Regions from separate parts of the Homo sapiens genome. Here all the other regions are linked to region 1. Evidence: fine-mapped expression QTL. A gene starts in region 1. Each other region holds a variant in brackets. All regions are shown on one strand. Distances are from middle to middle. Region 1 holds the start of CREBL2 (cAMP responsive element binding protein like 2). Region 2 overlaps GPR19 (G protein-coupled receptor 19). Region 3 holds the start of LOC107984486 (a long non-coding RNA gene).

Region 1 (4,241 bases):
AGACCCTATTTCAAAAAAAAAAAAAAAAAAGGAAACTAAATAAGAAAGGTACCTGGGTTCAATTGAAGCACCAGCCTACTCCACCAGTGGAAAACAGCCTGAGCTACTAGAACTTATTCCCTATGAATTCGTGGCATAATAGGGGTAAAAAAGACAAAAGGTGTAAAAACGTTTATCTTCATTGAGTAGAAGTGTGATGTCCTGGCCGGGCGCAGTGGCTCACACCTGTATTCCTAGCACTTTGGGAGGCTGAGGTGGGCGGATCACCTGAGGTCACTCGAGTTTGAGACCAGCCTGATCAACATGGTGAAACCCTGTCTCTACGAAAAATAAAAATTTAGCTGGATGTGGTGGCACACGCCTGTAGTCCCAGCTACTCAGGAGGCTGAGGCAGGAGAATTGCTTGAACCCAAGAGCAATTCTCGGCAGTGAGCCGAGATCGTGCCACTGTACTCCAGCCTGGGCGATACAGCGGAGACTCCGTCTCAAAAAAAAAAAAAAAAAAAAGAAAAAAAAGAAAAAAGAAAGAAGTGTGATGTCCCCTCCCCAAAGAAATATTCAAAGCAAAAAAAAAAAAAAATTACTTGCTGATTTTTCTGGAAAACTTTTAGAACGCTACCCTTCTGTCTTGGAAATACCACTTCCCCAATATCATACCCCACGAATGTTACTATAGTAAAACTGAAGAGTCTACAATGTTATCCCGCATTCTGTTGCATTGTTGTAAACAAACAAGGGCAAGATTCTTGTCAAGGGAATTAATGTGTGTACTGAGCATATTAAGCACTCTTATGAGCTGATAGCTTCCTGAAACTCGCCCCCCTTCTGTCTTGGAAATACCACTTCCTATTAAGAGGGGTTTACTACTTCACAAGCAATCCGTTCCTCTAGGTGAGTAACAATTCCAGAGTACTGCACTGGGCTTTCCCTTCCATCTGTCACTTCCTCACAGCCTTCTACATGAAGAGGAAGAGAAAACAAGAAGGAAAGAATAAAACAAGGAACACAGAGAAGTTGGAAATTTTTTGAATCTCTCTGAGGATATGTGAAACAAAAACTGCAGCAGCAGCAAAAAAAGACACCCAAACAAAGGACAAAGCTATCGTAAAGAGTATGCCAAAGACTGTGAAACAGAAGACGCTGAGAAGCACAAAGAAGGACGGTTTTTACTTTAAAAACTGGCAAATTTTAGAAGTCTGATTCCTTAAAATAAAAAAGTCCAAATCCAAAACAACCTGAAACATCAATAAACAAATCTTTGACCATCCCTATCTTCAGGAAATAAAACTAAACAACACTAATGTGGGTAGATGTAAAGAGAGAAAGGCGGCCAGGCGCGGTGGCTCACGCCTGTAATCCCAGCACTTTGGGAGGCCGAGGCGAGCGGACACCTAAGATTGGGAGTTCGAGACCAGCCTGACCAACATGGAGAAACCCCATCTCTACCAAAAATACAAAATTAGCCGGGCATGGTGGTGCATGCCTGTAATCCCAGCTGCTCGGGAGGCTGAGGCAGGAGAATCGCTTGAACCCGGGAGGCGGAGGTTGTGGTGAGCCGAGATCGCGCCATTGCACTCCAGCCTGGGCGACAAGAGCGAAACTCCGTCTCAATTAATAAATAAAGACAAAAAGGCTATACATAGATAAACTATTTGGATTAACCAATAATGAACATTATCTATTATTTTATAATCATAAAGTAAGTGATTTGGACAGGGAAATTGGATGGTGATGGGCTATTAAAGTTAACAAGAGGAAAATCAGTATTTTTTTAGAGAAGGCTTTCTAGTGGAGGTTAAACTCCACACTGGCCAAATAGCAACAGGAGCTTAGCGGTGTTCCAACCAACCACAGGAAATAGCTCAGAGGGGGAGTGAACTGATTATATGAATGGGGCATTGAGTAAGGGAGCCTGAGAGAAGGGGAATCGTCAAGGGGAATAAGGCTGGTTCAGCGTGCACTAAAGTCTCCAAACTGGAGAGAGGAGGCAGCAAAAAAGTGCAAGAAGAAAAAGTACAGTAGTTTCTTATCTCGACAGGCAAGTTAAGGACTAGGGGTTGCACTACCTGGAAAGCTAGCAAACGCCCTGGGAGTGAAAAATTTCCAGAGAGGGCCCTTCCTGGAAAAACGCAGCCCCGGTGTTCCCTGATTTCCTGGCTGGGTACCATCGGGCAGTGGACTGGAGAGGCGCAGGGATGTTTTAGGCAGGTGTCTCTTGGGTGTTGGCGTGGACTACATAGCGGAGGTTCAGCCGCGGGACTAGCATTGAGCGACAAGAAGGCGGCGGCGCGTGCAAACCACAAGACTTACCTTACTGTCATCCATCGCGGCAGACAGGCCGGCCTGGCCAGGCACTCCCTCCCGGAGCCCTCCCCCGGCTCAGCCGGCCTGGCCCGGCCCCCGCCCCGAGGAAGAAGGGGATATGGTTCTGGCTGCCTCCTCCTCTCGCCTAACAGTTCGCTTCCCTGATGCCAGAGTCACGGGGACGAGGGACCAGTTCAGGAATGGCAGAGCGGACCCTGGAGGCGGCCCCAAACGCCTCCCTTCGCCGCCGCCGCCTCCTCCTCCCCCTCCATGACAGTCTCTGGGTGTTTACAGACGCTCTGGAGAGCCGCCGAGACCGGAGGGTGGGCGGGAGCGCTGCACACGGAATGGCCCCTTCGGCTGCCGTAGCACCGCGGCATTCTGGGAATTGTGATTTTTCTTATCACAGTCTCTGCGCTACTGACTGGAAAAAAAACTACGATGTCCACATAGCCTCATTAAGGGGCAGCTGTTTTCCTTTTGCCTACTAGCTAGCGCTGAGGAGGCGGGGCTGGGCTGGAGGCCCAAAGTGCGCCTGACCTGAGGTTTTGGCTCCTAAGTGCCAGGGCCTGGAATGGCGGGGACGGGAGTTTGGTGCTCTGCGGAGGCAGCCCTGAAGGCGGGGTGCCGGAAGCAGGCCCTCCTCTGGGACGCTGAGGAAACCCTAAAGGTTCTTTATTTAAAAAAAAACGAAAAACAAAAACTAAGTATGTAAAATAGTGCAGCTACTTTGGGAAGAAATTTGGCAGTTCTTCAGAATATTGGCCACTCCCATACCCAAGAGAAATTAAAACGAGTGACTACACAAAAACTTGTATATAAATGTTCTTTCCTAGCAGCATTATTCATAATAGTCAAAAAGTGGAAACAACGCAAATGTCCTTTACTGGATGAATGGATAAACCAGTGTGGACTATACAAATTAAGAAATACTGGCCAGGGGTGGTGGGTCACGCCTGTAATCCCAGCACGTTGGGAGGCCGAGGCGGGAGGATTGCTTTAGCCCAAGAGTTCGAGACCAGCCTGGGCAACATAGCAAAACCTGTCTCTACAAAAAAATACAAAAATTAGTCGAGTGTGGTGGCACATGCCTGTAATCCCAGTTACTGGGGAGGCTGACATGAGAGGATCACTTGGGCCTGGGAGGCAGAGGCTGCAATAAGCCAAGATTGTACCACTGCACTCCAGCCTGGGCGACAGAGCCAGACACTGTATTTAAAAAAAAAAAAAAGAAGAAGAAGAATGAAAGAAGGAAGAAGAACGATGAAGGAAGAAGAAGGAGAAGAAGGAAGAAGAAAGAAGAAGGAAGAAGACCCATATAGTAAGATGCAGTCTCTACAAAAAAAATTAAAAATTAGTTGGGTGTGTTACAAAAAATTTAAAAATTACTTGGGTGTGGTGGTGGTGCTTGTAGTCCTAGCCACTCGGGAGGCCCAGGTGGGAGGATCGTTTGAGCCCTGGAGTTGGAGGCTGAAGTGAGCTGTGATCACGGCACTCCAGCCTGGGCAACAGAGCAAGACTCTGTCTCAAAAAAAAAGGAAAGAAATATTATTCAGCAATGAAAAAAAATGAAGGGATATACACACTTCAATATGTCTGAACCTTGAAAACTTTATGTGAAGTGAAAAAAGCCAGACACAATAGGCCACATATTGTATGATTCCATTTATAATGAAGTGTCTGGAACAGGCACATCTAAATAGACCAAAAAATCCATTAGTGGTTGCCAAGGGCTAGGGTTGAAGAATGGCAGGGATGGAGGGATCCTGGAAAGGAGAGTGACGGTTAATGAGTACTGGGTTTCTTTTTGAGGTGATGAAAATGATCTAAAATTCAGCCGGGCATGGTGGCTCACGCCTGTAATCCCAGCACTTTGGGAGGCCGAGGTGGGCTGATCACCTGAGGTCAGGAGTTCGAGACCAGCCTGACCAACATGG
Region 2 (4,241 bases), 49 kb before region 1:
GGGACTATAGGTGTTCCCCACTGTGCTTAGCTAACAGTTACATTTTTTTGTTGTTTTTAATCACCTGACTGCCATAAGGTCTCCCGTAACCTGGTTACATTTCTTAGAGGACATCTTGTATGTTCTTCAGTCAGTATTTTATGAAACAATAACAACAGAATAGCATCAAAATATATGTCACTGGTAGGTGGCAAGCTATTAGTGCATGAACTGTATCGTCTTTTAGAAAAAGCAAGCTATTTTCAGATGTCATTAAATTAGGAGCTATTTCTGGCTCATGTAGCAGTGTTGACTGCTCCATGTGTTACCATAATCCTTCTGTGATGGAAAATCTACACTAAGTAAGGACAGCACCCTTCCCAGTAGCTAGCCTGTCTACATTCACAGACTGCTGTTAGCTACTTCCATAGTCAAAATCTGTGTGTTTTCATCTGCCCAAGCTTTCCTCTTTTGCAACCTTAGGACAATTAGGAACTTCTCACATACTTGCCCAGAATTCCAGCAGATCTTCAGTTGGTGGTAACACCGTTACCATGAGCCAGATTTGAGATCCCTAATATTCTGTGATCCCTGATGAGTGAAGGGAACAAGGATATGTGTAGGAGGGGAGCTCGGTATGACTAAGGGTCAAGAGAAGGTGAGGCCAGAGAGAGCCTGAGCTGAGATCTGCTGAAACAGCTCCTAAAATGAAAACAAAGTTGGGGCCAGAATTTTTTCTGGATAGTAGTTATGTTTTCCTGCCAACGCTCAAGTCCTACACAAAGACAAATGACAATCAATGTAAATGTCAAATAAGATCGTTAGCCTGAGTAATCATAACCAATCTGTATGACACCTTTTTAACAGGAGGCCTCATTCTTCTTTTCCCCAACCAGAATTAAGAGAAAAAAAGTGAATATGGTTTTTGCTCACAGAATGGATAACAGCAAGCCACATTTGATTATTCCTACACTTCTGGTGCCCCTCCAAAACCGCAGCTGCACTGAAACAGCCACACCTCTGCCAAGCCAATACCTGATGGAATTAAGTGAGGAGCACAGTTGGATGAGCAACCAAACAGACCTTCACTATGTGCTGAAACCCGGGGAAGTGGCCACAGCCAGCATCTTCTTTGGGATTCTGTGGTTGTTTTCTATCTTCGGCAATTCCCTGGTTTGTTTGGTCATCCATAGGAGTAGGAGGACTCAGTCTACCACCAACTACTTTGTGGTCTCCATGGCATGTGCTGACCTTCTCATCAGCGTTGCCAGCACGCCTTTCGTCCTGCTCCAGTTCACCACTGGAAGGTGGACGCTGGGTAGTGCAACGTGCAAGGTTGTGCGATATTTTCAATATCTCACTCCAGGTGTCCAGATCTACGTTCTCCTCTCCATCTGCATAGACCGGTTCTACACCATCGTCTATCCTCTGAGCTTCAAGGTGTCCAGAGAAAAAGCCAAGAAAATGATTGCGGCATCGTGGGTCTTTGATGCAGGCTTTGTGACCCCTGTGCTCTTTTTCTATGGCTCCAACTGGGACAGTCATTGTAACTATTTCCTCCCCTCCTCTTGGGAAGGCACTGCCTACACTGTCATCCACTTCTTGGTGGGCTTTGTGATTCCATCTGTCCTCATAATTTTATTTTACCAAAAGGTCATAAAATATATTTGGAGAATAGGCACAGATGGCCGAACGGTGAGGAGGACAATGAACATTGTCCCTCGGACAAAAGTGAAAACTATCAAGATGTTCCTCATTTTAAATCTGTTGTTTTTGCTCTCCTGGCTGCCTTTTCATGTAGCTCAGCTATGGCACCCCCATGAACAAGACTATAAGAAAAGTTCCCTTGTTTTCACAGCTATCACATGGATATCCTTTAGTTCTTCAGCCTCTAAACCTACTCTGTATTCAATTTATAATGCCAATTTTCGGAGAGGGATGAAAGAGACTTTTTGCATGTCCTCTATGAAATGTTACCGAAGCAATGCCTATACTATCACAACAAGTTCAAGGATGGCCAAAAAAAACTACGTTGGCATTTCAGAAATCCCTTCCATGGCCAAAACTATTACCAAAGACTCGATCTATGACTCATTTGACAGAGAAGCCAAGGAAAAAAAGCTTGCTTGGCCCATTAACTCAAATCCACCAAATACTTTTGTCTAAGTTCTCATTCTTTCAATTGTTATGCACCAGAGATTAAAAAGCTTTAACTATAAAAACAGAAGCTATTTACATATTTGTTTTCACTCAACTTTCCAAGGGAAATGTTTTATTTTGTAAAATGCATTCATTTGTTTACTGTAGTTTTTGTGGGTTTTATTTTACTTGCTTTTTATGTTTTAGGAAAAGCGTTCACTTTGAACTTTAGCCAACAGTCCTTTTACTATTAATATATTAGTTACATGCATAAAAAAGAAAATGCTTTCTTACTATTTACTGTTGGTTCAAAAACATAAACCTAAGCCATACACACAGTCTT[T/C]GATTAATGATTCAATCTAGTTTTATTTTGTTTTCTTTTTCTCCTCCTTACTGAATTTTTATAACTATGGGCTTCAGTTCCAAATGAAATCCCCGTGTCACCTATCTCAGAGATTTATATTTCTTTCACTAAGCAACATTTAGGATGAGTTAATATTGTATAGGTTGTCACGTTACCTTCCTCCAAGTAACCACTAGCCAGATCTGCTATGGAAAGCACGCCATATATTGGAACTTGCTGGCAAGTCTTCTGTGGTTGGATTTTAATCAGGATTCTTAGGGGAAGAAAGCATACGAGTTGCTTAATTTCTCTTGCTCTTTCTCTTGTTTTTATCCTTCCTTAATCTAAGCAGCTGATGAAGCCTTGAAAAATGCAAAGTTAATGCAATGTTTTCCTCACACCTGTGTCCCATCTAGGCTGTGTCTAGGACATTCACCTCCCATTTTTGAGTTATATACAAGTAAATGAGCAGGTGCTGTTGCTAGCATATCTAAAAAATGCCAAAGACAGAAATGACAGATGGCATTTCTCTGTGCTCTGCAATTCAAGCCGAGACTTTCAGCTGCGCAGCACTACCCTATACACCAGGACAGCAAGGGCAAGGACTGTCTTCCTCATTCTTGTAGAAACTGGAGGCCATTTCTCTAGCCAGAGCCTGTTCTCCCTCATCTCTCTCCAGAGCACAGCACCATACCCTGGCCAACCTCAAACTCTTCTTTGCCTGTGATAACTAGGGAATTTTTTTCCTCTGGTTCCCAGATCTCCATTATTTCAAATCGAGGACCAGCCAGCACATTTAAAAAATGTTTTTATTTAAACAATAAAGGGTTTACAGACAAGACTGGTATGCATTTTCACGCCCTAGTTAACAAGAGCTGCAAATAATAACTCCAGTTGTTCAGCAATTCTACATGCATTATCTCCTTTATCCTCTCAATAATTCTGTGATATATTTATTATCATCCCTTTTATAGATGAGCAAACTGGAACTCAATAGTTATGTGACCTGCCCAAGTTGGAATGTGACAGAGCTGGTATTCAAACTCGAGCCTCTAACCGCATGTCTGTCTGTTGCTCTTTCCTTGACATTTCAGATGTCTCCCTAGACGACACGAGGCGCCAAACCCATCCAGGCCCTGAAGGGGCCTCCTGACCACTGCCTTGGTGGAAGTCAAAGGTCTAAGAGAATGTGGCCATTCTTTTTTCTTTTTTTAATTTTTTTTTTTTTTTTTTTTTGAGACAGAGTCTCACTCTGTTGTCCAGGCTGGAGTGCAATGGCGTGATCTCGGCTCACTGCAACCTCTGCCTCCCGAGTTCAAGTGATTCTCCCGCCTCAGCCTCCCAAGTAGCTGGGATTACAGGTGCCCGCCACCATGCCAAGCTAATTTTTGTATTTTTAATAGAGACGGGGGTTTCACCATGTTGGCCAGGCTGGTCTCGAACTCCTGACCTTAGGAGATCCGCCTGCCTTGGCCTCCCAAAGTGCTGGGATTACAGGCACGAACCACCGCACCTGGCCTCTTTTTTATTTTCAATTTTAAAAAATCAGCTGAATTTAAGGTTCACTGGTGATTCTTAAAAAGGGTCTAGTTGAAATGTAATGAGCTGGCCTTCACCTGTTCCTTGGCTGTAGCTAGGTTCTTGGACTTGTGCTGCGGAATGTTTGCAATAAGGAGGGAAACCTGTGCCTTCCTACCTCCCAGACACAGGGGAATGAGACAAGATTACGTTTTGATATTTGGAACAAAGAATAACAAAATATTTAATCTACAAAACATTT
Region 3 (4,241 bases), 27 kb after region 1:
CGGGCCAGAATTCAAATCATAGACTGGCATATAGAGTTTAAACTAGTAAAATTAGAAAGGGAAAATGTAAACTCCTGAACAAAATGTTAAGAAATTTATGTATAAACCTGGAATGCGGAAAATCTAGCTGAGCAGTTTATATGAAAAATATTATGGGTTTTATTTAGGCTGGCTGCCAGTGCCATGGGAGCCAACAGTGTAATTTCAGCTTGTAAAGAAATGAGTGCAATCTCTGCCTGCATGGAAGTACAATATTCATTTAATAATGGGAAACTTCAGCTTTCTTATCTGCAAAATTAGACGCTAGATTAGACAATTTCCGGGTCCCATACAGTGCTACTATTTTATGAGTATATGACTCTATCACTTAGAAGTTCTAAACTTGAATTCCTGCATTTCCAGAAAATGACCATTGGAAAGAAATATAGGCTTGACTAAAACAGATAATTCATTTCTCTGGTTAACTTTATAGTTTGGATAATCTCCAAAGAGAAAACAAAAAAGATTCTTTTTCTGTGTGTGTGCTGACCTGACCCACAGATATACACCATGTCAAGCTTCACCCAGAACTATTTTGCTTCAGGTGGCAAGCCTGAGAAACCAGTTTTTCCTGAAGTTTGCCTGATAAATACGTTTATGATGAGCTGTACTGTCATTCTTCTATCTTGCCATAGCCTTGGAAGGCCCCTCCTAAGCTGGCCAATTGCCTGTTGACGTTGGTAATCAAGGATTTCAGAGGCAGACATCAAGGCCAACATGGGGCAACGACAGGAGGGACTGGGGTGCTCTGCCATATGAGGCTGCGGGAAGGCATGGATCCGAGTTTTAGCCACAGCATAATAGGCGGTCTGTGATGGTTTTGTGGGTAACCAGTGAGCTTCCCCAATTGATCGGTGCAGTTATCATTCTATTTTAGACCCCTAATTGGCATTTCCAAGCAGTTTAAATATGTTTTGAGAAAAAGGCAGTAAAAGAGACTAAATCTGGGGGAAAGCAAAGCTTCAGTAAAAATAGCATTCCAAATATTTCAGCTGGGATCTCTTTGTCTAACTAACAGAGATTTGGAGAGTGGATCAGAAGGCCTGCATCTCCTTCCCCTTCTGCAATTAGCCAGGTATATGCCCGTGGGCAAGCCATTGAACTGATCCTGGGCCACTGTTTCCTTACTTACAAGATGAAGAGGAGCCCCACCTTGCTACTTCCAAGAGCGTAGGAGCTGAGCACCTTTGGGTTGCCCTGGTTTGTGAAGGCCCCCTGAACTAAGAACACATTATATATTGATCAGGAAAGGAATTCGATATAGGCTTGGAGGTGATCTCTGTAAAGTCAGAAAGAGGATCCTAGGATTCTAAGGCCATATGCACAGGGCAGTGAGCAAGAACTGAAGTTACAGGACTCTCAGGTTCCTGTCTCAGGTAAGTCCCTTCCAGGTGTTGGCTGAGTTGCTCTATGGCTCATTTTCTTAATTGTGTCAAGCAGAAGAGGTCACAGAGGGTGGAGCATTGGCCAATGTGTCATGTTCTCAAAGTTCTGAAAAAAGGACAGAGGGAGCAGAAAGGCCAGAAGAGGAGTTTCCACAGCAAACTGACCACAACCAACTATCCCATTCCCTTCCCAGACTGGAAGGGACAAGGGCACCAGGTAGCTGCAGCCTCCATGGTTTCTTAAGTATCTTCATCCCTTTAGCACCATAGCCACCAACTTAAGCAAGGAAATCAAGATCTTTAACAAACAGGGGAAGTCCAGGAGATGGTAATTAGGTGAACTTTTGGAGATTTTGGGGGAATCCGTAGATGTTTATCTTTTCAAGAGATAGACTCCCTTTTAAATTTTGGTAAAATCTACATAAATGTCATTTACCATTTTAGCCATTTTTACATGTACAATTCAGTGGAGAGGCCCTTTTTGATAACTTTCATTCTCTCCCTGTGCTGATGTAGACTGTGTACTCCCTGCTAGGAAGATTCCTGGTTGTTCTGCAGGGTCATTCTGAGGGCGTCATCCAGTTAAGTGGATTTGGCTCCTGCAATAGGGGAATACCCCAAAATACCAGAAACAGGACAGGAAATTATTCTGTGGTCATTTATCCTTGATACTGATGAGATCAGATTTGCTGCTGCATCCCTTTAATTTTTATCTCTGCATTGTCCCTAACCACTTATC[T/C]TGACCTGTGGCTTGCCCTTGGGCCTGATCTCTTTCATTATAGTGCATTTTGGTTCTCTGCTGACTCCTGGCGCATTCTGATTATTAAAAAAAAACCCTATTTTTCTTGGGATGTGACTTGTCTGCCCCTTCAGTGGTCCTTGCAGAGCTTATTTGTCAGATACTATTGACAGCTTCTGCTCTCTACCTGAGCTCCAATCCCATTTCCCTGACTGCCTACTGGCCATTTCCTCTGGAATGTGCAGGTCATTGTTCTGCCAAGCAGATTGCAACATGTCCAAAAACAACCTTCTTCTTTTTTTTTTTTTTTTTTTGCCACAAATCAGCTGCTCATATAAACTGTCAGTCCCTGTCAATAGTCCATGAAGTTATTTAGATATAGAGAAGCAAATTCCTCTTTGATTTGATCTCCTCTTTCATCACTCTCAGCTGTTCAGCCCCTAGAACAATCAGGTTTTCCTTCAAATATTGATCTTGTTTCTGTCATTCCCTCTCTCCTATGCCCATTTCTAGGTCCTTACTTCCTCTAATATCATCTACTGTTCATGTCTACCCTTTCCCTGATTCAATTACCTGTGAAAGACTGAGGCCAGACCTAGACTACCTTCATTAATCAAATCATGTCTATTCAAAACCCTGAAGTTCTTCCCTATTCATATAGACTTCTTGCTCTTCTTTGCTGTCAAAATTTCCTCTAATCTGATCTCATACTAGACAATATTTCTGCCAGGTGGCTATATTGTAATGGGAAGTTTAATGGACTTGGAGTTAGTGGATCTGCTTTCAAATCCTAGCCCCGTACTCAGCAGAATGACCTTGGGCAATTCACTGACTCTCGAAACCTTGAATCCCCATTTGCAAAACTGGGGTGATAATACCTATGTCATAGGGAAGTTTATGAGATTGTAGTAATATCTGTGGAGACAGTTTAGCATTGTGCTCGGAACCCGTGTTTGGGCTGACTTACTTGGTTCAATACTAGGCTTTCCCACTCAGTAACTATGTGACCTGAAGCAAGTTCCTTAGCCTCTCTGGGTTTCATCAGTTTCATCTGTAAAATGGATACATTACCTATGAGGTAACATATACCTCATAGGTCTGTCGTGACAATTAAATGAGATAATATATGTAAAGCACTTTAACACAGTGCAAGGCACATTGTAAGCTTTAATAGGTGTAAACTATTATAATTATGCAGCAAGAGACCTAGTGTAATCAGCACTTGATATATGTTTGGTAAGTTTGTTTGTGTGAGACAGTGTCTCACTCTGTCACCGACACTGGTGTGCAGTGATCATAGCTCACTTGCAGCCTCGACCTCCCAGGATCAAGCTGTCCTTCCACCTCAGCCTCCCAAGTACTATACTCCCTGGGACTATAGGCGCACACCTTCACACCCCGCTAAATTGTTTTGTATTTTTGTAGAGAAAGGGTCTCACTGTGTTTCTCAGGCTAGTCTTGAATTTTTGGGCTCAAGCGATCCACCCACTTCAGCCTCCCAAAGTGCTGGGATTATAGGCATGAGCCACCGTGCCCAGCCTAAGTATGTTGATGAATTCATCTTATTCAGATGATCTTAACTTCCCATTAATTTTTGCTATGTACATTCTTATGCCACCCTTCCTCCAGACAGGCTGACTGCTTTGGTTTTCCATGAATATATCTTTCACTTTTCTTGCCTTTGATAATGGTTTCCTATTATAATTTATAATTCATCACATGAAATAGTAGGTACTATATCATTTCTAGAATGTCATAATTTCTCTTTCCTGCCAATCCAGATTCTTTCCATTTTTTAAGGTCTCTCCTAAACGTTGGCTTGGTGACACTTTCCCTCATTACTTCTGTACTTATCAGTGTCTCATTTTTCTGAACCAATTACCCTTGGCTTAGCACTTGATGCCATTAATCTGTCAGGTACACTTAGCTGCTGTTTCCTGTATATTCATTTTGTGTCTTCAGCTCAAATGAAAACAGTCCTCAATCCAGCCTTGTTTCAGAACATGCAGTAAATATATAGTGACTATTAAATCTATTAGATCCAACATTCTAGAATAATTTTTCAGGTCTACAGCCTC

What was found.
Region 2: its variant is fine-mapped to the expression of CREBL2 in whole blood (TOPMed, PIP 0.96).
Region 3: its variant is fine-mapped to the expression of CREBL2 in adrenal gland (GTEx, PIP above 0.99).

What each region holds. Positions count from the first base shown.
Region 1 is chr12:12,610,257-12,614,497 of GRCh38, reverse strand. It overlaps CREBL2 (cAMP responsive element binding protein like 2), which reads right to left and starts at 2,622. Exons shown (of 4, transcript NM_001310.4): 1 at 2,311-2,622. The coding sequence starts at 2,325. RefSeq lists a silencer at 2,269-2,568 and enhancers at 2,729-2,778, 2,829-2,908, 2,502-3,253.
Region 2 is chr12:12,659,105-12,663,345 of GRCh38, reverse strand. It overlaps GPR19 (G protein-coupled receptor 19), which reads left to right. Exons shown (of 4, transcript NM_006143.3): 4 at 876-2,456. The coding sequence starts at 898. The coding sequence ends at 2,145. Among named protein-coding and RNA genes, the nearest start is that of GPR19, 35 kb to the left of the region's middle. The variant T/C (reference allele first, on the strand shown) is at 2,462.
Region 3 is chr12:12,583,475-12,587,715 of GRCh38, reverse strand. LOC107984486 (a long non-coding RNA gene) reads left to right here and starts at 758. Exons shown (of 3, transcript XR_001749010.1): 1 at 758-1,415. RefSeq lists enhancers at 2,158-2,659, 4,214-4,241. The variant T/C (reference allele first, on the strand shown) is at 2,164.